Homo sapiens: one gene and its partners. The protein of the gene in region 1 interacts with the protein of each later gene in a pairwise test. Each region holds a gene or a part of one and is shown in the gene's direction. Other genes may lie near its edges. The genes, in order: MPP3, GNG7, TMEM37, FAM171B, ARL2BP, IDUA and CRABP1.

The links.
Region 2: the proteins of MPP3 (region 1) and GNG7 interact in a two-hybrid assay, tested with the Homo sapiens proteins (one large-scale study listed by BioGRID and IntAct).
Region 3: the proteins of MPP3 (region 1) and TMEM37 interact in a two-hybrid assay, tested with the Homo sapiens proteins (one large-scale study listed by BioGRID and IntAct).
Region 4: the proteins of MPP3 (region 1) and FAM171B interact in a two-hybrid assay, tested with the Homo sapiens proteins (one large-scale study listed by BioGRID and IntAct).
Region 5: the proteins of MPP3 (region 1) and ARL2BP interact in a two-hybrid assay, tested with the Homo sapiens proteins (one large-scale study listed by BioGRID and IntAct).
Region 6: the proteins of MPP3 (region 1) and IDUA interact in a two-hybrid assay, tested with the Homo sapiens proteins (one large-scale study listed by IntAct).
Region 7: the proteins of MPP3 (region 1) and CRABP1 interact in a two-hybrid assay, tested with the Homo sapiens proteins (one large-scale study listed by IntAct).

Annotation. Positions count from the first base shown.
Region 1 is NC_000017.11:43,805,647-43,809,146, reverse strand, and holds part of MPP3 (MAGUK p55 subfamily member 3), read left to right. Parts: intron 1-68; coding exon 69-191; intron 192-3,500. UniProt on the Homo sapiens protein: Participates in cell spreading through the phosphoinositide-3-kinase (PI3K) pathway by connecting CADM1 to DLG1 and the regulatory subunit of phosphoinositide-3-kinase (PI3K). Stabilizes HTR2C at the plasma membrane and prevents its desensitization.
Region 2 is NC_000019.10:2,517,695-2,521,194, reverse strand, and holds part of GNG7 (guanine nucleotide-binding protein G(I)/G(S)/G(O) subunit gamma-7), read left to right. Parts: intron 1-469; 5' UTR 470-506; coding exon 507-587; intron 588-3,500. UniProt on the Homo sapiens protein: Guanine nucleotide-binding proteins (G proteins) are involved as a modulator or transducer in various transmembrane signaling systems.
Region 3 is NC_000002.12:119,430,554-119,434,653, forward strand, and holds the start of TMEM37 (voltage-dependent calcium channel gamma-like subunit), read left to right. Parts: upstream 1-1,300; 5' UTR 1,301-1,350; coding exon 1,351-1,371; intron 1,372-1,519; exon of another isoform or gene 1,520-1,697; intron 1,698-4,100. UniProt on the Homo sapiens protein: Thought to stabilize the calcium channel in an inactivated (closed) state. Modulates calcium current when coexpressed with CACNA1G.
Region 4 is NC_000002.12:186,742,560-186,746,059, forward strand, and holds part of FAM171B (protein FAM171B precursor), read left to right. Parts: intron 1-923; coding exon 924-1,016; intron 1,017-3,500.
Region 5 is NC_000016.10:57,243,887-57,248,058, forward strand, and holds the start of ARL2BP (ADP-ribosylation factor-like protein 2-binding protein), read left to right. Parts: upstream 1-1,372; 5' UTR 1,373-1,481; coding exon 1,482-1,519; intron 1,520-1,906; exon of another isoform or gene 1,907-1,925; intron 1,926-1,928; exon of another isoform or gene 1,929-2,193; coding exon 2,194-2,255; exon of another isoform or gene 2,256-4,172. UniProt on the Homo sapiens protein: Together with ARL2, plays a role in the nuclear translocation, retention and transcriptional activity of STAT3. May play a role as an effector of ARL2.
Region 6 is NC_000004.12:985,829-989,843, forward strand, and holds the start of IDUA (alpha-L-iduronidase isoform a precursor), read left to right. Parts: upstream 1-1,215; 5' UTR 1,216-1,256; coding exon 1,257-1,414; exon of another isoform or gene 1,415-1,980; coding exon 1,981-2,121; exon of another isoform or gene 2,122-3,004; coding exon of another isoform or gene 3,005-4,015. Other genes in the region: SLC26A1 (sulfate anion transporter 1), read right to left, coding at 3,005-4,015.
Region 7 is NC_000015.10:78,339,081-78,343,152, forward strand, and holds the start of CRABP1 (cellular retinoic acid-binding protein 1), read left to right. Parts: upstream 1-1,272; 5' UTR 1,273-1,348; coding exon 1,349-1,418; intron 1,419-1,962; coding exon 1,963-2,141; intron 2,142-4,072. UniProt on the Homo sapiens protein: Cytosolic CRABPs may regulate the access of retinoic acid to the nuclear retinoic acid receptors.

The DNA of each region.
Region 1 (3,500 bases):
CTTTCAAAAGTCTATTTCACAACAAAACACTTCAAAAGTATATAATATTCCTGAACTTTCTTTCTCAGGCACTGAAACAACTGAGGACCTCAGAATTTAAACCCTATATTATATTTGTAAAGCCTGCAATTCAGGAAAAAAGAAAAACGCCACCTATGTCCCCAGCTTGTGAGGACACAGCAGCCCCATTTGTAAGTTTAAAGTTGATTGTTTCTTTTCTGAAGGCCTAAGGGAGGCTGTTACAGGAACGCTTCTAGCTGCATAAGGGTGCTTGCAGCTGAAGAGGGATGCGGGACACACCTTCTACATGTGATTGTCTTTCCATTTTGCCTATTGAAAAACTTAAGAGAAGATGATTACATGGCCAGAAGGCTCAAGGTGAACAGCTGGAAGTGCCTCCCAAACCAGGCAGGTGGCTTTGCCTGGGCTCACGCCCCTCCACTCCCTCACATAAGCGCCCTCCCGCAAAATGTGACACCTGTCAGGGACCTCATCTGAGTGTGACAGACTGTACTCATCAAACTATACTCCTAGGCCAAATCCAAGTATTTTAAATTGAAACCCCAACTAACAAGGTCATTATCACTGCTATCAAACCAGTTTGAATCATCAGTGAATGAAGGGATTTCTAAAACTAGTGGATGAGATCGTCTGATGTGTCCTAAATGAACTTCTGTTTCACTGTCATAGATTCTTTGTTCAGCCCAGTCTATGTCAGGATGGCGAGACCCTCACCCAAAACCTAAATATTTGACAGAGTTCTTCCAGGAGGTGTGGGCTTGGTGACTCATCTTTTTTGGTTCTTAACAGGGTCAGTTAGCAGAATGAGTTGGAAGTTGTTGTGGGTGGTGGGGGCAGTCAGAAGCAACTCAGTCCCAGAATAGACTTTACTTGCTGTCCTATATAGCTGGTTTCATCTGAAGGAGGCCTTCTCGGATCCTTCCCCTTGGTCAGGAAGCTCCCGCTGAGTCAAGATTTTGATGCAATCCTAGTTCATACTAATTCTCAGTTTTAACTGTCCACGTTGATACACTTTTTATTTTATTATTATTTTTTTAAAGACAGGGACTCACTATGTTGTCCAGGCTGGTCTTGAACTCCTGGGCTCAAGTGATTCTCCCACCTTGGCCTCCCAAAGTGCTGGGATTACAGGTGTAAGCCACTGTGCCCAGCCTTTTATTTTTTTGGGGACAGGATCTTGCTGTATTGCCCAGACTGGAGTGCAGTGGTACAATCATGGCTCACTGCAGCCTTGAACTCCTGGGCTCAAGCAGTCTTCCTTCCTCAGCTTCCTAGGTAGCTGAGACTACAGGCATGTACCATCAATGCCCAGCCAATTAAAAAAAATTTTTTTATAGAGACAGGGTGTCTCTGTGTTGGCCAGGCCGGTCTCAAACTCCTGGCCTCAAATGATCCTCCTGCCTCAGCTTCCCAAAGTGTTGGGATTACAGGTGTGAGCCACCGTATCTGGTCTCAGTAAATTATTTAGAATGGCATACATACAAGGAACATTAGAAATTCTCTCCTTGGCCAGGTACGGTGGCTCACACCTGTGTCTCAGCACTTTGGGAGGCTGAGGCGGGCAGATTGCTTGAGCCCAGGAATTCAAGACCAGCCTGGGCAACTTGGTGAAACCCCATCTCTACAAAAAAATTACAAAAATTAGCCAGGTGTGGTGGCACAAACCTATAGTCCTAGCTACTCGGGAGACTGAGGTGGGAGTGGGAGGATCACTTGAGCCTAATAGGTCAAGGCTGCAGTGAGCCATGACCATGCCACTGCATTCCAGCCTGCATGACACAGTGAGACTCTGTCTCAAAAAAAAAAAAATGTAGAAAAAAGAAAAATTTTCTCCTTTAGAAACTCTAAGGGGGAGGCTGGCATGGTGGCTCACGCCTATAATCCCAGCACTTTGGGAGGCTGAGGCAGGCAGATCACCTGACGTCAGGAATTCGAGACCAGCCAGGCCAACATGGTGAAACCCCGTCTCATACTAAAAATACAAAAATTAGCCAGGTGTGGTGGTGCATGCCTGTAATCCCAGCTACTCGGGAGGCTGAGACAGGAGAAACACTTGAACCCAGGAGGCAGAGCCTGCAGTGAGCCAAAATCACGCCACTGCACTCTAGCCTGGGTGACAGAGCAAGACTCCATCTAAAAAAAAAAAGACACAAGAAACTCTAAGGGGAATAGGGGAATATCAACTTAAGTCTAGAATCATTTAGAAACATACAATATTGGCTGGGTGCAGTGGCTCACACCTGTAATCCCAACACTTTGGAGGGCCAAGGCGGGTGGATCACCTGAGGTCAGGAGTTCAAGACCAACCTGACCAACATGGTGAAACCCCATCTCTACTAAATACAAAAAATTAGCTGGGTGTGGTGGCACGCGCCTGTAATCCCAGCTATTTGGGAGGCTGAGGCAGGAGAATTGCTTGAACTTGGAGGCAGAGGTTGCAATGAGCCGAGATTGCGCCATCGCACTATAGCCTGGGCAGCAAGAGCAAAACTCCATCTCAAAAACAAAAAAAAGAAACATACAGTATGCCCATCATATAACAAAAAAATCAGAGACAACCTAAATAATGTTCACTGTCAGGACTCAGTTCAATATACTCCATTATGTGACACTTACAGGATGTATTGAAGTATTATAGCCAGTTAAAAGCCATATGTTGGGGCCGGGAGTGGTGGCTCACGCCTGTAATCCCAGCACTTTGGGAGGCTGAGGTGGGTGGATCATCAGAGGTCAGGAGTTCGAGATCAGCCTGGCCAACATGGTGAAACCCCGTCTCTACTAAAAATACAAAAATTAGCTGGGCGTGGTGGCAGGCATCTGTAATCCCAGCTACTCGGGAGGCTGAGGCAGGAAAATCACTTGAACCTGGGAGGCAGAGTTTTCAGTGAGCTGAGATTGCACCACTGTACTTCAGCCTGGGCGACAGAGCAAGACTCTGTCTCAAAAAAATAAATTAATTAAATAAATAAATAAAAGCCATGTGTTGGAGGAATATTTGATGACATAGCTAAATACAAGAAAAAATAAATCAAAATAAAAAATCAGGATTCTAATTTTGTGTTACACACAAAATACACTAAAACGCTAAAGGCAATTCTCCCTGAATAGTGGGCTCATGACTAAATTTTGTTTTGTTTTCTGTGTGTTTTTTGGAGGGGGAGTTAACAGCTTTACTGAGATAAAATTTACATACTGTACAATTCACACATTTAAAGCATACAATTCAATGATGTATTCACAGAGTTGTTGCAACTACCACAGTCAATTTAAGAGTATTTTCATCACTTCAAAAAGAAACCTTGAGCCCATTAGAATTTCCCATTATCTGTTTTCCTCCAGCCCCTTCCTAGCCACAGGCAACTGCTAATCTACTGTCACTATAAATTTGTCTATTCTAAACATTTCATATAAATGGATTCATGCAATGTAAGACCTTTTGTATCTGGCTTTTTTCACTTAATATAATGTTTTTAAAGTTC
Region 2 (3,500 bases), on another chromosome or scaffold:
TCCCGGGTTCACGTCATTCTCCTGCCTCAGCCTCCAGAGTAGCTGGGACTATAGGCACCCACCACCATGCCTGGCTAATTTTTGTATTTTTTTTTTTTTTTTTAGTAACGATGAGGTTTCACCGTGTTAGCCAGGATGGTCTCGATCTCCTGACCTCATGATCCACCTGCCTCAGCCTCCCAAAGTGCTGGGATTACAGGCGTGAGCCACCACGCCCAGCCTGCCTTCGCCCTTTCATTCTCTCGTTCTGCAAACTCCCACAGAGGATTGTGACGGCTGACCGCGTGCCAGGCTCTATGCTGAGAGTTAAACGAGTGCCAGCTCTTTGTACACGGAGGCCCCTGGTCCCCACCCAGAGGCAAAGTGGCCGTGCCTAGAGTCGGGAAGGTTGAGCCAAGGCCGGGCGCCCCTGCTGCCACCCAGAGGCCTGACCTGAACTTTGACCCACACCCCTCTGCTTCCCCCACAGCTCTCTGAACAACGGGGCCCAGAGCTGATGGCAGACAATGTCAGCCACTAACAACATAGCCCAGGCCCGGAAGCTGGTGGAACAGCTACGCATAGAAGCCGGGATTGAGCGCATCAAGGTGAGCCCAGCGGGCATCAGGAAGAGGAGGGGAGAGACCCTTGGGGGCCCCGCAAATGATGAACAGGAGGCTCGGCAGGAGGGCAGAGGCTTGCACCCCAACTGTGTCTCTTGCTGTGTGACCTTGAGGCCCTCCCTTAACCTCTCTGAGCCTCCATTTCCTCGGCAGAAAGAGGCAGCTGATCTAACACCTATCTCCTGCCTTCGTGCAGCAATGTAACGTGCTTTGTAAACACACTGGGGCCCCGTGGAGACGGTCATCGTGACAGAGCGCTTTGTCGTCCTCATCTGCATTGATCTGTCCAGCTCCTTGGCAATGACAGATGCAAATTAAACTGAGAGACACAGTCCCAGGCGGGAGGAGACTGCATGTCGTATCTACTTTTCACTTCTGTGTTGTTTGAAGGATTTGTTTGTTTTGTTTGTTTGAGACGGAGTCTTGCTCTGTCACCCAGGCTGGAGTGCAGTGGCGCGATCTCGGCTCACTGCAACCTCTGCCTCCCGGGTTCAAGCAATTCTTCTGCCTCAACCTCCCAAATAGCTGGGATTACAGGCATGCACCACCATGCCTGGCTAATTTTTTGTATTTTTAGTAGAGACGGCGTTTCGCCATGTTGCCCAGGCTGGTCTTGAACTCCTAACTTCAGGTGATCCGCCTGCCTCGGCCTCCCAAAGTCCTGGGATTCCAGGCGTGAGCCACCATGCCTGGCCCGTTTGAAGTTTTTTACAAGGATCACACTTGAGGCTGCGCCTTGTCGAGATTTATTTTAAGGCAAGCTCTGAAATCTGCAGTGTAGGCCAGCAGGCTGGAGACCCAGGGAAGAGTTGGTGCTGCAGCTGGAACCCCAAGGCCACCTGGAGGCAGAGTTCCCTCCTCCTGGAAGGACCCCAGGCTTTTTCTCTTAAGCCCTTCAACTGATTAGATGAGGCCCATCTGCATTACAGACGGTCACCTGCTGTGCTTGAAGTCTACGGATTTAAATGTGAATCACATCAAAAAAAAAAAAAAAATTTTGCATGTGAGGCACAGTGGCTCACAGCTGTAATCCCAGCACATTGGGAGGCCGAGGCAGGAGGATCACTTGAGGTCAGGCGTTCAATTCCAGCCTGGGCAACAACATAGCAAGACCCCATCTCTACAAAATAAAAAACAGGCTGAGCGCGGTGACTCACACTTATAATTCCAGCACTTTGGGAAGCTGAGGTGGGCAGATCACCTGAGGTCAGGGGTTCGAGACCAGCCTGGCCAACATGGTGAAACCCCGTCTCTCCTAAAAATACAAAAAAAAGATTACCCGGGTATGGTGGTGCATGCCTGTAATCCCAGCTATTTGGGAGGCTGAGGCAGGAGAATCACTTGAACCTGGGAGGTGGAGGTTGCAGTGAGCCGAGATCGCACCATTGCACTCCAGCCTGGGGAACAGAGCGAGACTCTATCTCAAAAAAAAAAAAAAAAAAAAAAGAAACAAGAAAAAAACAACCTTCACAGCAACATCTAAAAAAACATTTAACTGGCCAGGCACGGTGACTCACGCCTGGAATCGCAGCACTTTGGGAGGCTGAGGTGGGCGGATCACAAGGTCAGGAGTTCGAGACCAGCCTGGCCAATATGGTGAAACCCCATCTCTACTAAAATTACAAAAAAATTAGCCAGGCGTGGTGGCAGGCTCCTATAGTCCCAGCTACTTGGGAGACTGAGTCAGGAGAATAGCTTGAACCCGAGAGGCAGAGGTTGCAGTGAGCTGAGATTGCGCCACTGCCCTCCAACCCCAAGCGACAGGGTGAGACTCCATCTCAGAAAAAAAACAAAAACAAAAAAACATTTAACCAAACCCTGGGGCACCATGGCCCGCCCTAGTGCACCCATAAAATCAGCCATCACCCCACGTATCCACTCAGAACTCAGCTCTCCAGCACCTGTCACCAGCTTGTCATTATTGGCCACGGGAATTTATTAGGAAGGGGTGACCGGCCCTTGCTTTGCTCCCAGCGGGGAGGCGGACAGAGTCGTCCCTGCTGGCCAGGTGGCACAGGTGGTTCTGATCGGCCGGTGAGTCTCCCTCCAGCGCAGCTCTGAGCCCTCCCAGACCCCATCACGCTGCTGCTGGCCGGGATCCAACCAGTAGGGGAGGGGTCTGCCTCCCACGAGGTGTCTGAATGTTCCAGCAATCTGACTGCTGAGGACAGACCTGAGCATTCAAAGCATTCCTTCGGGCTGAAAAGAGAGAAAGCCCTGGTTGAAGTGGTTTTCCTTTTACGAGTGGGTGCCAGCCCCCAGCCCGGGCGGAGGGCGGTGACTCATCCTGCCCTGTTTGATGTTGAGGAGGGGCCCCCACCGCCCCTTTGAATGTCGGGCCTCGGGGGGAGCCAGGATTTGACCCGTCCCCACTCCCAGTCCCGCCTGAGGTTTTACATCCCCAGCTCCAACGCGGCGACCAGAACCACAGAACCTCAACGGCGACGATCTTGGGGCTCACCAGCCCAGCGCAGTGGGCATGGGGGGTGGTGCCAAGGTGCCACGTGCTGGAGCCACAATGCCAGCTATTTTCGGGGTCTGGAGGCTATTTCTGTCGTCCAGGAGGGCCGCTTCCCAAATAGAAGTCTAGAAAGCAGGCCAGGTCCGAGTCATCACAGGCCGCAGCCGGCGGGCTCACTCTGTGGGCATGAGCGTCCCCCGGCTGCCCAGCTGGGCAAGACCCCAAAGCTGTCCCACAGGCTCCTGGCCGTTTGAAGGGCCCAGGTCCCAGGTATCCTTGGGGTCCAAAGGAGGACAGAGGATCTGGGATGCAGAGGTACTGGCCAGGCGAGGCGGCTCATGCCTGTAACCCCAGCACTTTCAGAGGTCTAGGCGGGAGGGTCGCCTGAGCCTAGGAGTTCGAGACCAGCCTGAGCAACATAGTGAGACCTCATCTGT
Region 3 (4,100 bases), on another chromosome or scaffold:
ATCTAAGTGGAAGATATACAGACAATTGTAACTACCCCTCTTTCTCACATGGCTCTAAAGGGGAAAACAGATGAGTGCAGTTGCTTTGTCTTTGGGTAAAGTCACCAGGAGCTGCCTGCCTGAGTGAACCAGACAATTTAATGTGTGCCATTTAGTGAGGGGCCTTGTTTTACCACCACATTTGAGGATGGGGGGAGGGAAGCCTTTCTGTTGGAATTTGTGGCCCTTGGACACTCCTCCCACCTCCACCCTTTTTGGCGGTAAAAGCTTTTAGGTGCTGCCTCTTTAAGAACTCAGATCCGGCCGGATGCGGTGGCTCATGCCTGTAATCCTAGCACTTTGGAAGGCCGAGATCGGTGGATCACCTGAGGTCAGGAGTTCGAGACCAGCCTGACCAAAATGGTGAAACCCCCGTCTCTGCTAAAAAATACAAAAATTAGCAGGGCTTGATGGGGCGCGCTTGTAATCCCAGCTACTCGGGAGGCTGAGGCAGGAGAATCGCTTGAACGGGTTTGAACCCAGGAGGCGAAGGTTGCAGTGAGCCGTGATCGCGTCATTGCACTCCAGCCTGGGCCACAAGCGCTAGACAACGTCCAGAAAAAAAAAAAGAGAGACCTCAGTTCCCATCGAGGTGGAGAAAAAATAACCACATTTGTTTGGCATATTTGCATTTTTAATAGTCCCTGAGGAGTTCAGGAGGAAACAGGGTTTTACATCCCCTTTTAGGGACGCAAGTAGGATTGCCCCAAAAAGTTCCACTCCGTTCACACTCAGCGAGGGCCCGGCAAGAGCCCCACCTTTCACATTCATTATTTCCCTTACTAACCGAGGCTCCGAGACGCTAAACAAGCAGCCCAAGGTCACACCGCAGAGTGAGGGCAGCAGAGCCTCTGCGCCTGCCTCCTCCCTTCGGACCCTGCCGCGTTCCCAGAGGCTGGACTCAGCAAGCTGGAACAGGAATCGAACCCTCAGGCCCTCGTCGCCGTCCCAGCCCTCGAGGAATCTGCGCCCCAGGCGAAGCTGTCCTCGGAGGTTCGGGAGCGTCGGAGTGACTTCCCGATCCTTTCCCCTGGGACCCGAGGGATCCCTCCCCCCAAGTGCCGGGTCCTCCCCGCGGCTCCCCAGGGGCTCCTCCGGCCGCCCTCGCTGACTCAGCGTAATCCGAGCCGCGGAGGGCGGCGGGGTTGGCGGAGCCCGCCCGGGGTTAATCGCCGAGCTTTGAACGCCCCCTCCCGCCCCGCCCGCCTCCAGCAGCCGCCCCGCCCCTGCGGAGAAGTCCCGGGCTGGCGCCGGCGGCCACAGCGGAGCAGCTGGAGCGATCGAGGCTGCAGCGCGGCCGCCGGGCGCAGCATGACTGCCGTCGGCGTGCAGGTAGCCGGCGCCTGGCGGGGCGCTGACCCGGGGTGCTGCCCCGCCGTGGGAGGTTGGGGGTGGGAGGACGGAGGGAGGGGCGTACCCACCGCGAGCGCCGGCGTCGGGCTGGGGGTGCGAGCGCCCCCCGTGCCCGCCCCCTGTTGCAAACCTGGGTCCGGAGGAGGCTGGGCGGGGAGCAACCTCGGGGGGCCTGCCTGCCTCACATAGCTGCTCCCGAGGCGCGGACTCCGGCTGCTTCTGCTCGCGGCCTTGCAAGCACCCGAGGCTCCCAAACTTCATTTGGAAAGATTTTTCTTCTCTTTGGTGTCACCAGTGACTTACTGGTCAGTTTACCATAAGGGTCCCCCTTTGTGAGAAATGAGGCGCGTCTGGGGTGGAGGGACAGAATCGACTTGCAAAGTGAGGCTTATGTAACAGAGGATGCGTCTCTTGGGAAGTTAGACCTTTCTGGGGGTGGAGGTTAGGAAGACCGTCTCCCTCCCCAAAGCTGCGTTTGGGGTGCTGGGCTGGGGGTGGACTTGCTGAGTCGCGCGGACACCTCAGGGAAAGGCTCTGGCGAGGGAAGAAGCCCGTGTCTCCGAAGATTTGGCTTCTCCTTAGCGTAGTGCACGATGTTTATGTTGGCTAAGAACCTACACATTCCTACCCGCTCCCTCGGGCCTGCTGCTCCCCAAAGGGAAGTCAGTGGGTGGCGGTACCGCTGCCCAGCGGGCGAACTTCCTTTCCGCGCAACTCGCCCGCTGCAGAGTCTATCCGCTGGACTGTCTCCAGGATTAGAGAGGCCCGTTGACTTCGTGTACAAACGCTCAGCCACAACACTGACCTAGTAGACACCGTTCTGCCCATTGTATAGATGAGGTAACCGAGACTCAGAAGTAAGGTGCCCTCCGTGGCTGGCCAAGGAACAGAATCAAGATTCAAACCCAGGGCTTTCTGGCTCCAAATCCCACTGGCTCCTCCTGCCTTTACCTAACGGGAGAAACCCCACCCACAGGACACCCCCAAAACCGCTTCTATAGCCAGGACCTAGGCACCTGGGCGAAGCCGGGCATGGGGCGCAGGGAATTCCTCCCCTTTGTTCTGGGGGATGTCTGGAATCCCGGCCAGGCAGCATGGTGGGACAGACCAGGTGCGGTCCCTCCCCTCTAGGAGCTTACAGCCCATGTAGGGAGAGAGACTTGGAAACAGGGCATGGGGGAGCGAATGCTAAATTAAGAGGTGCAAAAGTTGCCAGACGGGGAAGAGGAGGAAGCCTGGTAGCAAGGTGGGAGCTCAGCTGGGGAGGCCACAGGCTCCAGGTGAAGGGCGGGTGCTCCGGCCGCTTCGGGATGATAACTCTTCATCCCCACAACCATGACTTGCCAGGGGGCAAACACAGGTAGGAAGCAAGTTCTGGGTCATGCAGGCAGCGGTGGGCCAGGCTGCAGCTGAGAGGAGCAGAGGCAGGCCGGCTCATCAGGAGGCTGTGAACTTCCAGGATGTTGACGATGGTGATGGCCTCACCTGGGTAGGGGCAGAGTGGGTGATGAGGGGGAGCAAATATGGGAGACATGTTGGGGATGTGCGGAATGAGTTGGGAGGAGCTTAATTTGTCTACCTGGGGGTGCTTTGGTTAAGGGGAACACATGAGGCCCTGGGTTATAGGAGGAAGACCATGACATTGGACTCAGTAGCCCAGTAGTGTCAAGTGACCCTATTCTATAGGTCACTAGAAATCATGCAAGGTTACAGATGAAAAAGGAAAATGCTTACATTTTTAGCAGAGCAGTTAAGCTCCAGAGAGATTTAAGTGATTGCCTAAAGGTACCCTGCAGGGGTCCTCTAGGTCAGGGGCAGGACTTGACCTCCCCGCTCCCTTCTTTTCCACTGCACACTTGTCCAGCTGCCCTCCAGTAGCCGTTTCAGGCCCTGCATCACTGAAAGCTGGTGGAGATGCCGGGTGGTTAGGAATGAAGACTCTATATGTGTTATTATTGTTATTAATATTAATAGCTACCATGAGTTGGGAGCGGCCCGTGTACCATGCATCTTTATATACAGGATCTCATTTGATTCCTGGGAGTTTCAGTGGTGGCCAGAGAGTTTAAATGAAGCCCTACTTTGGGGCAGGAGCGGGAGGAAACTAGATGAGGTCAGCTGTCTCCACTTTCTGATCCTGACGTGACATCTAAGGGCCTGGAGATTAAAGTCCAGTCTGCCTAGGACAGGTAGGGCTGGAGAAGGGACAGGACGTGCCTGTTTTCCAGCCAGCATGCTGTCTCGGGTTAAAAGGTTTCTGGGTCCTGTGATTTGTTCTCTGCCTGTGGTGCTCCTCCTTTTTAGGACCATTTATCATTCTCTAGGGACCTTGTAACCTTGCCAGGTGCCTTCATGGCTACGACTTTCCTGCAAGTGTCATTAACTTCATTTTCTAGATGAGGAAACAAGGGCTCAGGAAGTTAAGAAACTGCCCAAGGACAAACACCTCTAATGGTTTGTGGAGTAGACACAGGTTTTCAAAGTTTCCTTTGGTTTCTTTCTTACCGGTAGATTTTTTTTTTTTTTGTAATAAAATGCAATACAGACTCCTGGACCCCCAATGTCCCAAGCAGGTACAGGGCTCAGTTGAAGTGAGGAAGGGGATGCAGAGCCAGCCTGCTCAGCTTCCCTGCCCACCCGGCTTCAGCACTGGAAGCCCCACCAGGAGCATGGGGACACAGTTTGAGAACCACAGCCCATACTCTTAG
Region 4 (3,500 bases), on another chromosome or scaffold:
CTTTGAAATATCTCAAAATAATAAAAGTATTTCCATGCAACTGTGTTTTCTCTTAAGAGATTTGAGGATGCCATGCTATTTCTATTAATTTTAAATACACAGCATAGAGGAAAGATATCAAACGAGAACTCGTGCTTTGGGAGCTCCTCAAAACTGATTTTTCTTTTGGAGGATTGAGAACTCCTCAAAACTGATTTTTCTTTTGAAGGATTGATAAGTTTGATTTGATCTTGCTTATAAAATGGTCTTTTGTCCCAGCTTCTTGCTCCAATCTTGAAATAATATCTTTCAGGTAATCTGCATTTAACTCATCCCAACAGGTAGTTCAGCTGCCTATGCTTGTAGGCAGGTTCATCTCCATCCTGCATTACTACTAAAGGTTGCCTTTGAATCATTTTGTGCATTAAATTGTTTCCTTCTCTGCCAACTCAGGATCCTTTTGGCAAACCACACTGTTTGCAGAAGAGCATTGTGCTCTTATGTGGGAAGGTAAAAGTGAAAAGTGGATATAGTTTATATCTAGAGAAGCTTGAATCATGGAGCCAAGAAAAAAAATTTTTAAATCTTAATAAGTAAAAATTAGAGAAAATATATCAGGGAGTTATTCAAGCATTTAACTTGATCATTTATATCTGGGGTTACAGAACATCATTCATCACCTTGGTATAGACTACTACCATCAAATAGAAAAGATTAGTAAAATAAATAGTGATAACCAATGTTTTCTTCTCACTTTATTGTGACCTTTTTTCCTCCATCATATTTTACATTCATTCTTCCTTTGTTTTGAATTGCTCTTCCCATCAAGCATTTGTTCCCCCCCACAACACACTTTTTGAGACTTGCTGTTACAGAACTATATTTGTCCTAGTTTTTTTCCCCTCACATTAAGTAAAATATTCTAATTGTGCTATATTTCACAGTATATTCATCAGTTACACTTTCACTGTTCCCGCAAAGCCAAGCAAATATATGGCTATTTGAAGACACTGTTTTAATTACTGGAAAATTAGCTGGTAAGTACCATACTTCTTACTAAGTAAACACTTAAAGTTATTGTCGTATAACTGTACTTCTTCACTAAGAATCAGTGTGAATTATAACTTGAGAAAAATCTAAATTGATCAGTATGATTAGCACTGACTATAAGTTGATCTGAACTGATATTTTACTGTCAAATGAATGGTGTGGGCTTTTTTGTATAGCAGGAGTCATTTTTTCCTTTACTATTTTAGCCCCTCAAACAGGCACACTGTAGAGAACTTCTGTTCTTCTTTCCAAATCACATTTCTTACTGGGGCTTCCATGGTGGGAGAAATTGAGGAAAGGGCAGGACACATATTGCTCAGGCCTTTGGGGCTAATTTACAGATTGCCTCCTTCCTGCCTCCAGCATTAAATTTGTCGCTTTTTGGGAGATGCCTAAGACTTGGTAGTTAAGTATCTGCTCTGTAGACGTGATTTGCCTCACTTGTGTATCCCAAGGAGAAGAGTGCAGAAATCATGTTTTGGGTACTGATTCAAACTGTGTCCTCCAATTCTGCTTTACCAACCATGAAGATGATTGTTTCATCCTAACTCCCCGCACGCCTTAGAAACCTCAGAATTCTGTGACTCTTTTATTGCATATTTTAGGAAACCTCTATAAATGACAACAATTTGCTTGTTTGTTTTGTATTGGTAAATTCATATTTAGGTCTAAAGTATAACAGGAATGACTGATAAAGTGAGAAAGCCCTCAAGGTGGAGTCCAGTAAGAGCGTCATGGTAAAAAGAACTCTCTGTGAAAGTTCTTTTCATTTTTAGATGCTGCCTTATCTATTCCTAAAATATTCAACCAGAAAATTTACTATTATTTGGGAAAAAAATAAACTAGGGCTTGATGAATCTTGAAGCAATTTACTGAGTGAGGCTGTAGAATCTCTTACTTATGAAATACCAAGACATTTGAAATACCAAGATATTTGCCAGATTTTTTTTATCTTTGAGACAGAGTTTCGCTCTTGTTGCCCAGGCTGGAGTACAATGGCACAATCTCAGCTCACTGCAACCTCTGCCTCCCGGGTTCAAGTGATTTTCTTGCCTCAGCCTCCCAAGTAGCTGGGATTAAAGGCATGTGCCACCACACCCAGCTAGTTTTGTATTTTTAGTAGAGATGGGGTTTCTCCATATTGGTCAGGGTGGTCTTGAACTCCTGACCTCTGGTGATCCACTCGCCTCAGCCTCCCAAAGTGCTAGGATTACAGGCATGAGCCACCGTGCCTGACCAGCATTTTTTTTTTTTTTTTTTGAGACAGTGTCTGGCTCTGTCACCCAGGTTGGAGTGCAGTGGTGCAATCTCGGCTCACTGCAACTTCTACCTCCTGGACTCAAGTGATCCTTCCACCTCAGCCTCCCAAGTAGCTGAGACCACAGGCGTGTACCACCACGCCTGGCTAATTTCTTATTTTTCGTAGAGATGGGGTTTCACCATGTTGGCCAGGCTGGTCTCAAACTCCTGACCTCAAGCGATCCGCCCATCTCAGCCTCCCAAAGTGCTGGGAGCTGCCATGACTGGCCTTGCCAGAATTTTGAGCTAGTGATTTTTGCTGTGTATGGCAGAATGGTGGATGTGGAGCTGTGTGTGAAAGAATGGAAAGTAAATAAGAATTACAAGTATACAGAGAGGCTCTGTTTAATGCTATTGGGGCCTTAATGAAATTAGCTTCTTCACAGTCCCTCTTCAGTGTTTGTTTTGATGCATCTCTGCCCCTCACTGGCATCTTCAAACCCCATTAACAATCATAGTTTCTGCTGGAATACATGAAATGGATCTGTGTGACCATGTCCCGTACCAATCCTTTGCCACTGTACCAAGCAGTGGTAAGCACTCATTTGTCTGGAAAGTACTGGCCATGCCTTGGCAGGTTTCCGTGAGAACACTGTGAGTCCTCTTGAATTCTCAGATCACTTCCTTTTACTGTCTCATTTTCCTAAAAGGTGACCCATTTGTAAGGCCAGGCAGGAAAGTATGAATGTTTCATAATGATGTTAAATCTTTCTGTAAAAAATACATATCCTTACTGCTGAACTTCCATAACATGTTTCATTAGGTTTGTACAGTGGAAATTAAGCCTGTGTGTTTATGTATTTATGGCAAAAGGAGAAACTAGAAAATTTAGGAATGTACAAAACCTTACAGAAGCTCAGCTAGACATTTTGTTTAGTGTGCATGTGTTCAGTTGTAAGAAATGTGGTCTTCAAAATAATTAAGCCACGTATTTTAAAAGAGCAAGTCATAGGTAGTACCTGTGAGTGATCAGAAGGCTTTAGATTGTATCCTCAACAACCAAACAGCATATAATTATGTTACTTTTCTTAACTGTTTTCCAGGTATTATTTTTCTAGCTTCACACACACAAAAACTATAAACTGAGAAGTCTTACATTGTTTCATTTATCATTTATTGTCATGTAGCTCTTTAAAAACTGATGTCTTTTCTATTCTAATAATTTAATTGAT
Region 5 (4,172 bases), on another chromosome or scaffold:
CCGGGCAGTAAGAGCGAAACTCCATCTCAATAAATAAATAAATTAGTAATAATTTATGTCACCTTGGTCACAGCTGTCACACCCGACTGTGTCTTTGTAACCATCTTTGTTTCAGATCCCACGGATATCTATTTTAAGTCCATTCAAAGATGTCTGCTAGGCCGGTTGTGGTGGCTCACACCTGTAATCCTAGCCCTTTTGGAGGCCAAGGTAGGTGGATCATCTGAGGTCAGGAGTTCGAGACCAGCCTGGCCAACATGGTGAAACCCTGTCTCTACTAAAAATTCAAAAATAGCCGGGCATAGTGGCACGTACTTGTAATCCTAGCTACTCGGGAGGCTGAGGCACGAGAATCGCTTGAACCTGGGAGGCGGAAGTTGTAGCCAGCCGAGATCGTGCCACTGCCCTCCAGCCTGGGCGACAGAGCAAGACTCCGTCTCAAAAAAATAAAAAATGTCTGCTAACCCATTCTGACTGGCCACCTGACCCTCAGTTCATACCTTAAACCCCTCTAGTTCCTCTAGTCATATACCACACTTTGGCCATAAGGTATCATGCAACTAAAGAGACACAATGCTTAGTTGTCCAATCAAGAGAAATCAGCTCAAACGAATCCTTTTTCAAAGTTTGGCAGTTTTGAAGAGGCCTTTTCCTGAAAGGTATCTGATTCCTGATTGCGTGGCTCAAAATAGTTCTTCAATTCTCATCTTGTATAATTAGTCAAGAAACCAATTACTGCCGAGTAATCTTTATGATGCGAAGATTATAACGTAAATTACAGGACATCGACTTCTTGCGATGGGGCTTTCCTTCCACGAGGGGTAGGAACTGTCTTGAAATCAGACGTCAGCATCACCTGGTTCAAGGGATAAGGGACTGGCTCTCCAGCGACTTGGCAACTTACAAGCGCTCTTTAAACACGCCTTAAACTACTTATTTAATCCTCCACACTCAGGGAGGCGCAATTTATTCTCGAGTTGCGAGTGAGGAAATTCTGGCTCGTGGCTTCGATTCCTTCATCCGTACAATGGGGGCGACTTGAGACGGAGTTCCCACACAACGGGTGCTCGCCGAAGCGCCGCATCCCTCCGCACTCCCTTCCGGGACTTCCTCTCCCTGTCTTGCCCCGCCCCGGCATCGGTAACGCTCGCCTGTGATTGGATGCCGGCCGGCCGTGAGGCGGTGGAAGGGGTTGCGGTGGCCATGGTGACAGGAGGCGGGGCGCCGCGCCCCTCCGGCAGTCACCGAGGCCCGGACCTGCGGCGTCGGCGGCGCGCGCAGAGGGCCAGGCGGGCGTAGAGGCCGGACCGACGCGTGGCGGCAGAGGGTATCCAAGGCCGGACCTGGCGCGCAGGCGCTGACCCGACCTGGCAGTGAGCTGGCCGCGGCCTTGGCTGAGAGGCCTTAACCCCGCCGGGCGGCCGCGCCCTGCATGCGAGTTGGGCCGCGGGCGGGGTTGGAGCCTACTCGGGGCGACTGCGATGGACGCCTTAGAAGGAGAGAGCTTTGCGCTGTCTTTGTGAGTAGCTCCTCCAGGGCGCAGGCGACTTGGGGCCGGAGGCAGCGGGCGTTCGCCCCGGGGCCTGACCCTATAAAACAGGTGTCCTTAGGGGCCGGGCCGGGCCGGGCCGGGCAGGGTGGGGGCCGCCAAGGCGCCGTCCCAGCTCCAGGCCTTCCTTTTGTAGAGTACTAAGGCTGCAGGTTTCAGGCCCCGCAGGACAGGAGTGCGAGGCGGGTGTCACCGTTGATCAGCGCCTCCATCACAATCCCCAGCCGCCAACCCTCAGCTGTCAGCAAAGCCTGGAGGGGTTGAGCGCCCGAGGCCCCTCCACCCCTCCCTGGCCCCCGCCTCCCGGACTCCTGACCAAATGACCCCCCCCGGCAGGTGTTTCGCCCGTGCCGGGTTCATGCTCACAAGCAGACAGGTATGGGGTGATAGCTAAGAGCCTGGAGAACAAGTTTTTATTAAAGTGGAGTCATGACATTGAACGTTCATGTCACAAACGTGCCGAGTGTGTTTTCTTCTGTTTGGACTTACTAGATCAGTCAGTCATTCTTAATCGTTGAAGATGGGTGATGGGAAGTTCGTTTTGCTACTCTTTTTTCTCTTGTGCATGTTTGAAAACGTCCATACTAAAAACATTTTTTTAATGCATTATTTGAAATAGCACCTAATCCAGGCATGTTTTTCAGCTCCTCCGCCTCTGATGCAGAATTTGATGCTGTGGTTGGATATTTAGAGGACATTATCATGGGTAAGCTTTTAAGATACTGTTTTTAAGGACTTGCTTGTTTCTTTAAGGACATTGAAATCAATTTGGAGAGTTAATTTTAAAAAGAGAAAACATCAAGCTGCCTGCAATTTTTAATGTAGCACAATGTAATACTTAAGTAAAGGCTTACTGCAGTTTGTCTTAGAAACAAACAGCCCAGTACTCCTGAAAACATCTAATAAGCATAGATTCAGAGGCTGGAAGGGACTGACTCAGGCTAATAGGGCACCAGCAGTGTGGCGTTCTTCGCAAAACTATAGGAAATAATGATCTACTCTATTTCTTATGTAGGGTAAGAGCAATTTCAATTTTAGATAGTTTTGAGTTTTAACATTTTCATGCCATAAAACACATAAAACCAGGCCAGGTGCGGTGGCTAACGCCTGTAATCCCAGCACTTTGGGAGGCCGAGGTGGGCGGATCACGAGGTCAGGAGATCAAGACCATCCTGGCTAACACGGTGAAACCCTGTCTCTACTAAAAATACAAAAAAAATTAGCCGGGCGTGGTAGCGGGCGCCTGTAGTCCCAGCTACTCAGGAGGCTGAGGCAGGAAAATGGCGTGAACCTGGGAGGTGGAGCTTGCAGTGATCCGAGATCGTGCCACTTCACTCCAGCCTGGGCGACAGAGCGAGACTCCGTCTGGAAAAAATAAAAATGAAAATAAACACATAAAACCATAACCATAAGCACACATGGCCATAAAGAAAACAAGGTATTAAGCTTCAGCTGGTTCTGTATTTTCCTAGGTTTTGAGTTCCTACTTGTGGATGTATTTGGGCATCCATGAAACCTGCTAAGTAACAGAGAAGCAGTAACAGTCCCCAGAGGTTTAAGACAAGTATGTAGGAGGGGAAAACTTACATTTGAGAAAATTCTGTTGACTTTAAGTTTTATGAGAATTGAGAAAAGAACACTGTTATTTGGTGTTATTGGCTGTATGGCTTAATCCATTTAGAATGAAAATTACTGACCAAGTTTTTATACCTTCAGGTATAAAGGTTCATGCCCTTAACTCCTGAATATAGATGTTTCATCATTAAGCTCGTTTCCCATGTGGACTTGGGGATTTCTGGGGAATACTGAAGAATCCATTCAGTTCTCTTGCCTATTATACCCTATATGCTATGGGAAAATGAGCCTTCTGTGAGCCTACGGTATTTATCCCAAAGTCTGGGTCCTTTCTGAAACTTTCCTTTTATTTTTAGAAATAATCTATTCAGTTGTTAAAATTCCTTATTCCGGGATGGGTACGGTGGCTCACACCTATAACCCCAACACTTTGGGAGGCCAGCGCAGGTGGATTGCTTGAGTCTAGGAGTTCGAGACCAGCCTAGGCACCATAGGGAGAACCCTGTCTCAATTAAAAAAAAAAAATTCCCTATTCCCTATCATTTATTAAGTGTTCACTATGAACTAATCTATTTACATGAATTCTCATCTAAATTCCACTTCCAATCCTATATGATAACTACCATAAACCATTCTTATTTTCCAGATAAATGTGTTTATATGGGGGTTAGAGAAATTAAGTAACTTACCCAAGGTCACACAATTAGTAAGTAGCTGAGATGCGATTCGAACCCAGACGGGCTAGCCTCTTTCAGACCCCATAATTTTAATCACTACACTGTTTCCACAACTGCTGTGGAAGTTATATCAAAATAAGAGAGAACCAATTCATTCCTTTTCAGAAAAGTAATGTCAGGGAGTTCCCAAGCCACCCTGTGTGGATATGGTTAAAATGGACTGAAGGATGGTGGTGATCATTGCACAACAATGTAAACATACTTAAAGCCACTGAGCTGTGTGCTTAAACATTAAAATGATAAAAAAAAATTGTATATCTCACCACAATTTAAAAAGAAAACAGGGCTGGGTGCGGTGGCTCACACCTGTA
Region 6 (4,015 bases), on another chromosome or scaffold:
AGACCCAGAACACTGTAACTCTAATTATCCTTCTCCCAACTTAGAGAGGATTATTGTCCAGTATTTTCGTTTTGTTAGTAGACTGTTCTTTTTTTCTTTTCTTTTTTTAGAGATGGGGTCTCATTTTGTCAACCAGGCTGGAATGTAGTGGTGTGATCATGGCCCGTCTCAGCCTTGAACTCCTAAGCTCAAGCAATCTCCCACCTCAATTTCGTGGGTAGCTGGGCCTCACAGGCATATACCATCGCATCTGGCTAAATTTTTTTTTTGTACAGATGGGGTCTTGGTACATCTCCCAGGCCGATTTCAAACTCCAGGCCTCAAGTGATCCTCCCGTGTTGGCCTGCAATTCCAAAGTGCTGGGATTGCAGGTGTGAGCCACCGCACCAAGCCTGTTCTTTCCATTATTATTTTTATACAATGTTTGCTTGGATTCACACATGCATACATGGACTACACATGTACTACAGTTGTCCCATGGTATCCTCGGGGTATTGGTTCCAGGACCCTCCCAGATACCAAAATTTGCAGGTGCTCAAGTACTTGATATAAAATGGCACAGTATTTGCACATTACCTACGCACATCCTACTGTGTAGTTTAAATCAAGATTACTTATAGTCCCTAAAACAATGTAAATGCTCTGTAAATAGCTGTTATACTGTATTGTTTTAAAATATGTATTATTTCGTATTGCTTTGGCTTTAAAACAATATTTTCAGTCTGCTTGGTTGAATCCATGGATCTGAAGCCAAGTGTAAGGAGGGCCCAGTGTGCTCTTCTGGGGTAATTCTCCTTCCTGCTAAAGCGCACGCTTTACTCAGGAGGCTGGGGTGAGAAAATCGCTGAAGCCCCGGAGATGGAGGTTGCAGTGAGCTGAGATCGCGCCACTGCACCTCAGCCTGGGCGACAAAGCAAGACTCTGTCTCAAAAACACACAAAAACAGAGAAAAACAAGACAGTAATGGCTCAACTCACATAGCACCAACGGGCGAAGCGTTCTTCTGAGCGCTTTCCGAGTCATCGGTCCTCAGAGCAGCCCCTGAGGCCCGCAAGGAAGCGGGGCTCCAAGCCCTGCCGTGCTCCCGGCTCCCCGAGGCTCCCCGAGGCCACCCAACCCCTCCCACCCGGCCATCGCCCCCTCACCAAGGCCCCGCCCCGCGGCGGCGGTCACATGGGGTGCGCGCCCAGACTCCGACCCGGAGGCGGAACCGGCAGTGCAGCCCGAAGCCCCGCAGTCCCCGAGCACGCGTGGCCATGCGTCCCCTGCGCCCCCGCGCCGCGCTGCTGGCGCTCCTGGCCTCGCTCCTGGCCGCGCCCCCGGTGGCCCCGGCCGAGGCCCCGCACCTGGTGCATGTGGACGCGGCCCGCGCGCTGTGGCCCCTGCGGCGCTTCTGGAGGAGCACAGGCTTCTGGTGAGCGCTCCGCGGCCTCCGGGACCCCCTGGCCGCACGGGGAGAGCTCGGGCGCCCCCTGACTGCGCACTGTGAGAGCTTCAGAGACCGGAGCTCCCTCCTCTGGGGCCCTGGCTCTCCCGGGCCCGCCCCCCGCCGTGTTTGTGGGTGGGTCCTCCACCTGAGTGGGCGCCGGGGCGTGAGCCTGGGCCGCCCCCTGCAGCCCAGGCCGATGCCCGGGATCCTGCTCTTTGAGGTAAACCAGGAGTCTCCCCTGGGAGTGGACGGCCCTGCAGCGGGACCTGGCCTGCCTGTCCCATTCCTTCCACCTAGAGCTGAGGTACCCGCCTTCCTGGCAGGGCCAGGGCCAGGGCTGGCGTTGGCCCCTCGTCTTACTGCTGCTGCCGTTCCCCATGAAGATGGGACCTCCCCACATTCCTGGCCCTAAGGGTCATTTTATTAGTCACTGAACGCACGGGCAGCGCCTGGATCCTGCGCCCGGGCAGTCCTGGGCTTGAACGTGTGTGTCAGCCGCGCTGCCAGCCATGCTGAGGCTCGGGACTGAGCCGCCCCTTTGTTGTCCCCAGCCCCCCGCTGCCACACAGCCAGGCTGACCAGTACGTCCTCAGCTGGGACCAGCAGCTCAACCTCGCCTATGTGGGCGCCGTCCCTCACCGCGGCATCAAGCAGGTCCGGACCCACTGGCTGCTGGAGCTTGTCACCACCAGGTGGGCGGCGGGCAGGGTCTGGGCGTCCCAGAGCCCCTTACAGAGGCACAGATGGGAGGGGAGGGCTGGGGGCTGCTCGGAAGACCCCTTGTTCCCCCACCTCCCGCCGAAGCACCCTGTTGGGGAGAGCGTGTCCTTGCTGGCTGTGCTGGGGTGAGGGCTGTGTGCTGGAGGGAGCCCCTGCATGGGGCACGGTGGGCTTCCTGCAGGTCTCCCTGCAGGCTCAGGGTTGGCTGCGCCGCACCTGGCTCCTGGTGCACCCGTGAGCATCCCTGTGTGTGTCTGCTGGCCAGGCTGGGTAGGGCCACTGCACCTGAGGGCTGAGCTGAGGTCTCATCGGTCACAGCACCCTGGGCCCTGACGCTGGTGCAGGTGGCCACCCTGTGAGGGGGAGGCACGAGGTGTGAGGGGCACTTGGGTGTGTGGGGCCTTCTGGAAACACAGAGACCCTCGTGCACTTGGCCAGAGCCGCTGGCTCCTACCAGCAGGGTGGGCACCGGGCAGGCCTGGGCATAGGGAGTCCTCTTGGCACCTTGGAGGCTGCATGATGGCGGGGGACCCTTGTTCAAATAAGATGTCAACCCTGAGCGTCAGGTCAGGCCCATCCCTCCTGAGCTGAGGGACGGTGCATTGGGGCCCAGCCAGCACTGTGGGCCAGCCTGTCTCGGAGGCAGAGGTTCTTGATTTCTGAGTGTTTGGGTCCTGCGTGTGATCAGAGGGCCTCCTTTCCCAGTTGGGGTTCCCCGGTTTCCCCAGGGCAGCTGTGGCACAAGAGTGCAGCTCTTGGGTGGCTCCTCCCTGGGAAGGGTCTCAGCAGTGGCTTGCAGACGTCTGCTGTGGGTCCCCAGGAGGGAGCAGAGGCTGCTGGGCAGGCCTGGCCCTGCTACAGATGGGCATCGGTGGCCTCCAGCTCCCTGTGGCGGGCTCGTGCTGTCTGCACGGCATCGTGCACACTGAGGAACAGCTGCTCCTCCTCAGCCGTGTCCCCGGGGCCCTCCCCGAGGAAGCCTCCTCTGCTCAGAATGTCTCTCACAGGCGGGCTGCAGCAGGCTAGCAGCAGGCTGATGCCCAGGGCCCCGTAGTCTCGGCGCAGGTCCTGCAGCGTGCTCACACCGGCTGCGTCTAGGAACAGCAGCGGGGCGCAGTCGATGACCACTGTGTGGAAGCCGGCCGCTGCGGGCACCAGCGCAGCCCTGGTGCTAACCGGGCCCAGGTCCTCGCCCTGGGCAGGGCCTCCCTCACCGACCCCCGTCTCTGAGCCCCCCTCCTTCCTCCTGGCAGCCATGCACCCTGCGTCCAGCCCCGTGAGGCTGTAGAGTGACTGCAGGAAGAAGTCCTTGTTGGCATAGTACAGCGGCCCCCCAAAGCGGAACACCCGCACGCCGGGCTCAGGGACGAGGCCCTCGAACTCTGTGGCATCCTCGTAGAAGGCCGTGTCCCCGATGCGGGCCAGCAGGGCGGTGCGTGGGCGTTGGGTGCGGCCGGCCAGGCTGAGCAGCGAGAGGATGACGCCAGCCAGCAGCCCGGCCTCTGTGCTGACCAGCATACAGGTGGCCGCGGTGCCTGCCCAGACCAGCGCGTCAGCCGGGCTCATCCGCCACAGCCGCGGGAGGTCCCACACCTTGCGCAGGGCCCCCCGCAGGCTGACCACGATGACGCAGGCCAGCACGCTTCGCTGTAGGTCGTGGAACAGCGGTGCCAGCGCCAGCAGCACCAGCAGCACCACGGTGGCGCTGACCACGCTGGACAGCTGTGTCCGGCAGCCAGTGGCTGTCTTCACCAGGCTCTTGGCCAGGGCGGCGCTGGTGGCGAAGCAGTGGAGGAAGGCGGGTAGCACGTTGCAGCAGCCCACAGCCAGCAGCTCCTGGTTGGCACGCACAGAGTAGCCGTGACT
Region 7 (4,072 bases), on another chromosome or scaffold:
GTTATCGAGCCCCACCTGGCTAAGCCTTAGGAAGGGAGGACAAGTGGATAAACGATCACTGCCCTCCAGGAGTTCAGTTTATAGCAGAGCGAAGACTTGAACAAGAGCAGGACCGGACAAGAATCCTGTCAATTCAGAGAAAAATAATCACAGTTTATTAGGAAACTGAATTTCACAAAAGAGAGAGCATAAAGATGGGCTTTCGTGAATGGGCAAGATTTGATTAACCCGATGAGGAAAGGGGCATTCAAGGAAGAAGCCATGGCATGGGCAAAAACTTAGAGATAATAAAATGCATGGCACGTTCTAGAATCCTGAATTGTACAGTTTGGCTGAGGTGTGCAGATGGTAAAATAGTGGGAAAAAGCTGGAAGGAAAATGTACAGAGAAGAGCTACAAGGGTAATAGTGAAGTGTTTGTACTCCCTTAGTGGAAACACCGAGGGGACTTTAGGTCGTGATGTTTAGGTTATTTGGGAGCAAAGGGAGAAGACTTCCTCCCCTTGGCCCTCACAGCCTGCCCGAAGAGTGCAAAGCCTCACGCTTTTGCAAAACAGGCCGCACCTAGCCCAGATTCTGGAGCTGATTCAGTCCATGCCTCTCGACCCACAGTTTGTCCTGAGCCCTGACAAAGGTCTGGCCCCCTCCTGCACTCGGAACGCGGAGGACCCGCAGCTCGTGGATTCGCGCCTCAGTGCCCAAGCTGGTGTTGATGGGGGTTGCGGTTTCCTGCCACTCACTCCCCATGGGTCCTGTGGGGGGCGTGGGGATGCGGGGAGAGGGTTTCAGAATAGGATCCCGGACTGGGAGGGAAGGGACACCATCTGGGCACACCCAGTAGGTACGACCGGAGGTGAAAAAAGAGTGGGTCCCATCCCCTGATGGCCCCGCTCGCTATCCACTTTAAGTTTATGTTATGGATATTTTCAAACATATTCAAAAGTAGAGAGAAAAGTAGAATCATAACCCAAGTCCACACCGCCCAGCTTCAACAGTTATCCCCTCCAAGCCCATCTTGTTTCAGCTAACCCTCTCCCACCACCCATTTTAAAGCGGGATGTGGGTGTCCTGAGGGAGGTGGAGGCTCCCCAGTTGGAGAGCGGGTGCCCGCACCTCTGGAGGCTGAGGCACAACTGGGCTGGGAGTTGAGCGCATACCGAGTAGGGGCTGCGGGGGAGCGGGGGCAGGGCCGGCGGGGCGGGGCCAGAAGCCCGGCGGGGTTGGGGGCGCTCTCCTAGTGACTCAAGGCGCGCAGCGCTGGGCGCAAAGCGCCAGTCTCCGCCTTGCGAGCTCAGAGTGTGCCCGCTGCGCCGCCGCTGTCCGTACCTGCCGCCGCCGCCACCGCCACCATGCCCAACTTCGCCGGCACCTGGAAGATGCGCAGCAGCGAGAATTTCGACGAGCTGCTCAAGGCACTGGGTAAGCTGGTGCAGAGGGCGCGCCCCGACGGGGAGATGCGGCCCGGAGGTGCCCTGGTCCCGGAAGTGCCCCGGTCCTGGAGGGGGTGGAAGTTGGGGAGCCCAGGCAGGAGGGAGTCCCCGGGGCAATAGATCGCCTTGTCTCCCAGGCGCACCGGGTCTCGGAGAAGCTGGTAGAGATCCCGGAACCCACGCGTTCAGCGAACGTTTGCTGAATGTTTGGCGCCCTCCTCGATGGTGCGGACTTTATCTCGTGCTAGATCATAGCGAGGAGAGATTACTGGAGAGCAAGGAGGATCAGGGACTTAAATTTGGAGACTCAAATTTGGGACCAGGCTCTGCCACGAATTCACTGTGCAACTCGAGGAAAGTCACTTACCCTCTCTGTGCCTCAGTCTCTCATCTCGAAAACAAGGGCGAGGGCAGGGAAACGAGTGGATCAATTTTAAGGCCCCTTTCTAAAGTTAGGGTATGACCAGTGCCCGACCGGTCCCGAGACTGGCGGCGAGGCCCCGTGACCCAAGCCTGTGGTGCACCCTGCGCAGGTGTGAACGCCATGCTGAGGAAAGTGGCCGTAGCGGCTGCGTCCAAGCCGCACGTGGAGATCCGCCAGGACGGGGATCAGTTCTACATCAAGACATCCACCACGGTGCGCACCACTGAGATCAACTTCAAGGTCGGAGAAGGCTTTGAGGAGGAGACCGTGGACGGACGCAAGTGCAGGGTGAGGCCCCAGAGCCACTACAGCGTCCCCGTGTCCCCGCTCGGTGCCCATGGCCCACTGCTGCTGGAGGAACCTGTGTCTCCCTTTGCAGCCTGTGGCGCGCCTTCCTTGCAGGGTGTGTACACTGGCTGTTTGCAGAGGGGGTTTGTGCATCCTAGTTGCCCCTGGCTCAAGACAAAGTATTACCTTCATTCCATCTCAACCCCATCCCTACGCTGCCTCCCGGGGTGCTAACAGCCGCGCTTAAAGAGCGGGCTCTGGGTTGCGCCGCGTTCCCAGCAGTGGCTTTTGCAGCGGTTTGCAGCGCCAAGCGCAGGCGGCGCAGGAGGAGGAGGAGGTTGCAGGAGCCGCCAGGTTCTCTGTCGCAGGTGAAGCCGCAGCTCTTGCATTCCTTTCCCGCCGTATCCCCCGCGCCCGCCCGGGTCCCTGGGCCGCCTGGGTACGCTCTGGATACAGTTTTAGCAGTCCCGATGGCCCCGTCACCTCTCCCTTCCCGCCTTCGGCCTGGTTCCTTAAAGGAACGGCGGAGTCTTTCCAAAAGCAAGGCAGGTTCTGGCTGGGAAAATGGACTAGTTGCCCTCTCTTAGTCCTCAAGGGCAAGAGTTTTTTTTTATTTCTCCATGCATCGGCCCAGGGATGAACCGGTGGATTGAAGCAAGGGGTTGTACATTCGTTTTTTGCATGGGCAAAAATTGCATTTGGTTAACCAGATGGAAAAATAATCACCGGTGCTACCACTTATTTAAAAAGTGACAGAATGTCTCCCTCCCCTTCTCCAATTTTTTTTTTTTAAAGAAAAAAGTCGTAACATTCCAGAGAGTGGGAAATTGTTTCTTTCACCTTTCCTGAGCAGTGCCTGGTCTGATCTCGGAATGGGACTCTCTGAGCACCGGGCTTGGAAGGACAAAGAAACAAAGCCCCCCAGAAGCAGGCTGATCTAGGAGGCAATCTTTGGCTCCAGAATTGTCATAGCCTGGAAATGATCTCCACGCTTGGAGGGGGTGGGATCTGAAGCCTAAACTGCACTGCAGAAACAAAGAGCAGGACAGCATAGAGTGAAGGGCTGGGAGTCTAAGAGAGGAGGCTTGGCAATAGGCAGGGCTCAGTCTGGGGACATCCAATGTTGGCTACTGCCAGGAAGGGTAATTCTGATTTAAAAAAAAAAAATTAAAGGTTCACACAACAGCCGGGAGAGTGGGGCTTTATGCACCCCCCATCCCCCCACACCTTGCCTAATGAATGTGTCCCATGTGTTAGTTAAAAACTGATTATGTGCACATTCAGCTCTGGCCCACCCCCCAGCCCAGCTGTACCACACTTAGCTTTGTGCAGACACTGGGGAAAAACTTCAGGAAATCCCTCCTTTTGCCTCCCACCTCCAAAAGCATGAAGAGCCTTCAGATTGATTTGCTTTTTAAATTTTTTCTAAAGGGATGTAACCGGGAAAGTGGCAGCATTTTAACCCTCAGAGCCAAAGACACCGAGGTTTATCAGTGCAGGGGTGCACTAAATCTGATGAGGAGTGAACAGAAAGGACGTTCCTATCCCAAAATCCATGCAGGGAATCGTGCTCCTGATAGGCTGATGACAGATGTGGTTACAAACTTGGTGTCTTAACTGTTGTCAAATCTTGTGGTTCTGATGTGAAGGTTCTTGCTTTTAAAATCCAAATTATGTTCACCTGAGGTCAGGAGTTCGAGACCAGCCTGGTGAAACCCCATCTGTACTAAATATACCAAAAAAATTAGCTGGGCGTGGTGGCAGGCACCTGTCATCCCAGCTACTCAGGAGGCTGAGACAGGAGAATTGCTTGAACCTGGGAGGTGGAGGTTGTAAGGAGCCAAGATTGTGCCACTGCACTCCAGCCTGGGCAACAGAGCGAGACTCCATCTCAAAAAAAAAATGAATAAAAATAAATAAAATCCAAATTG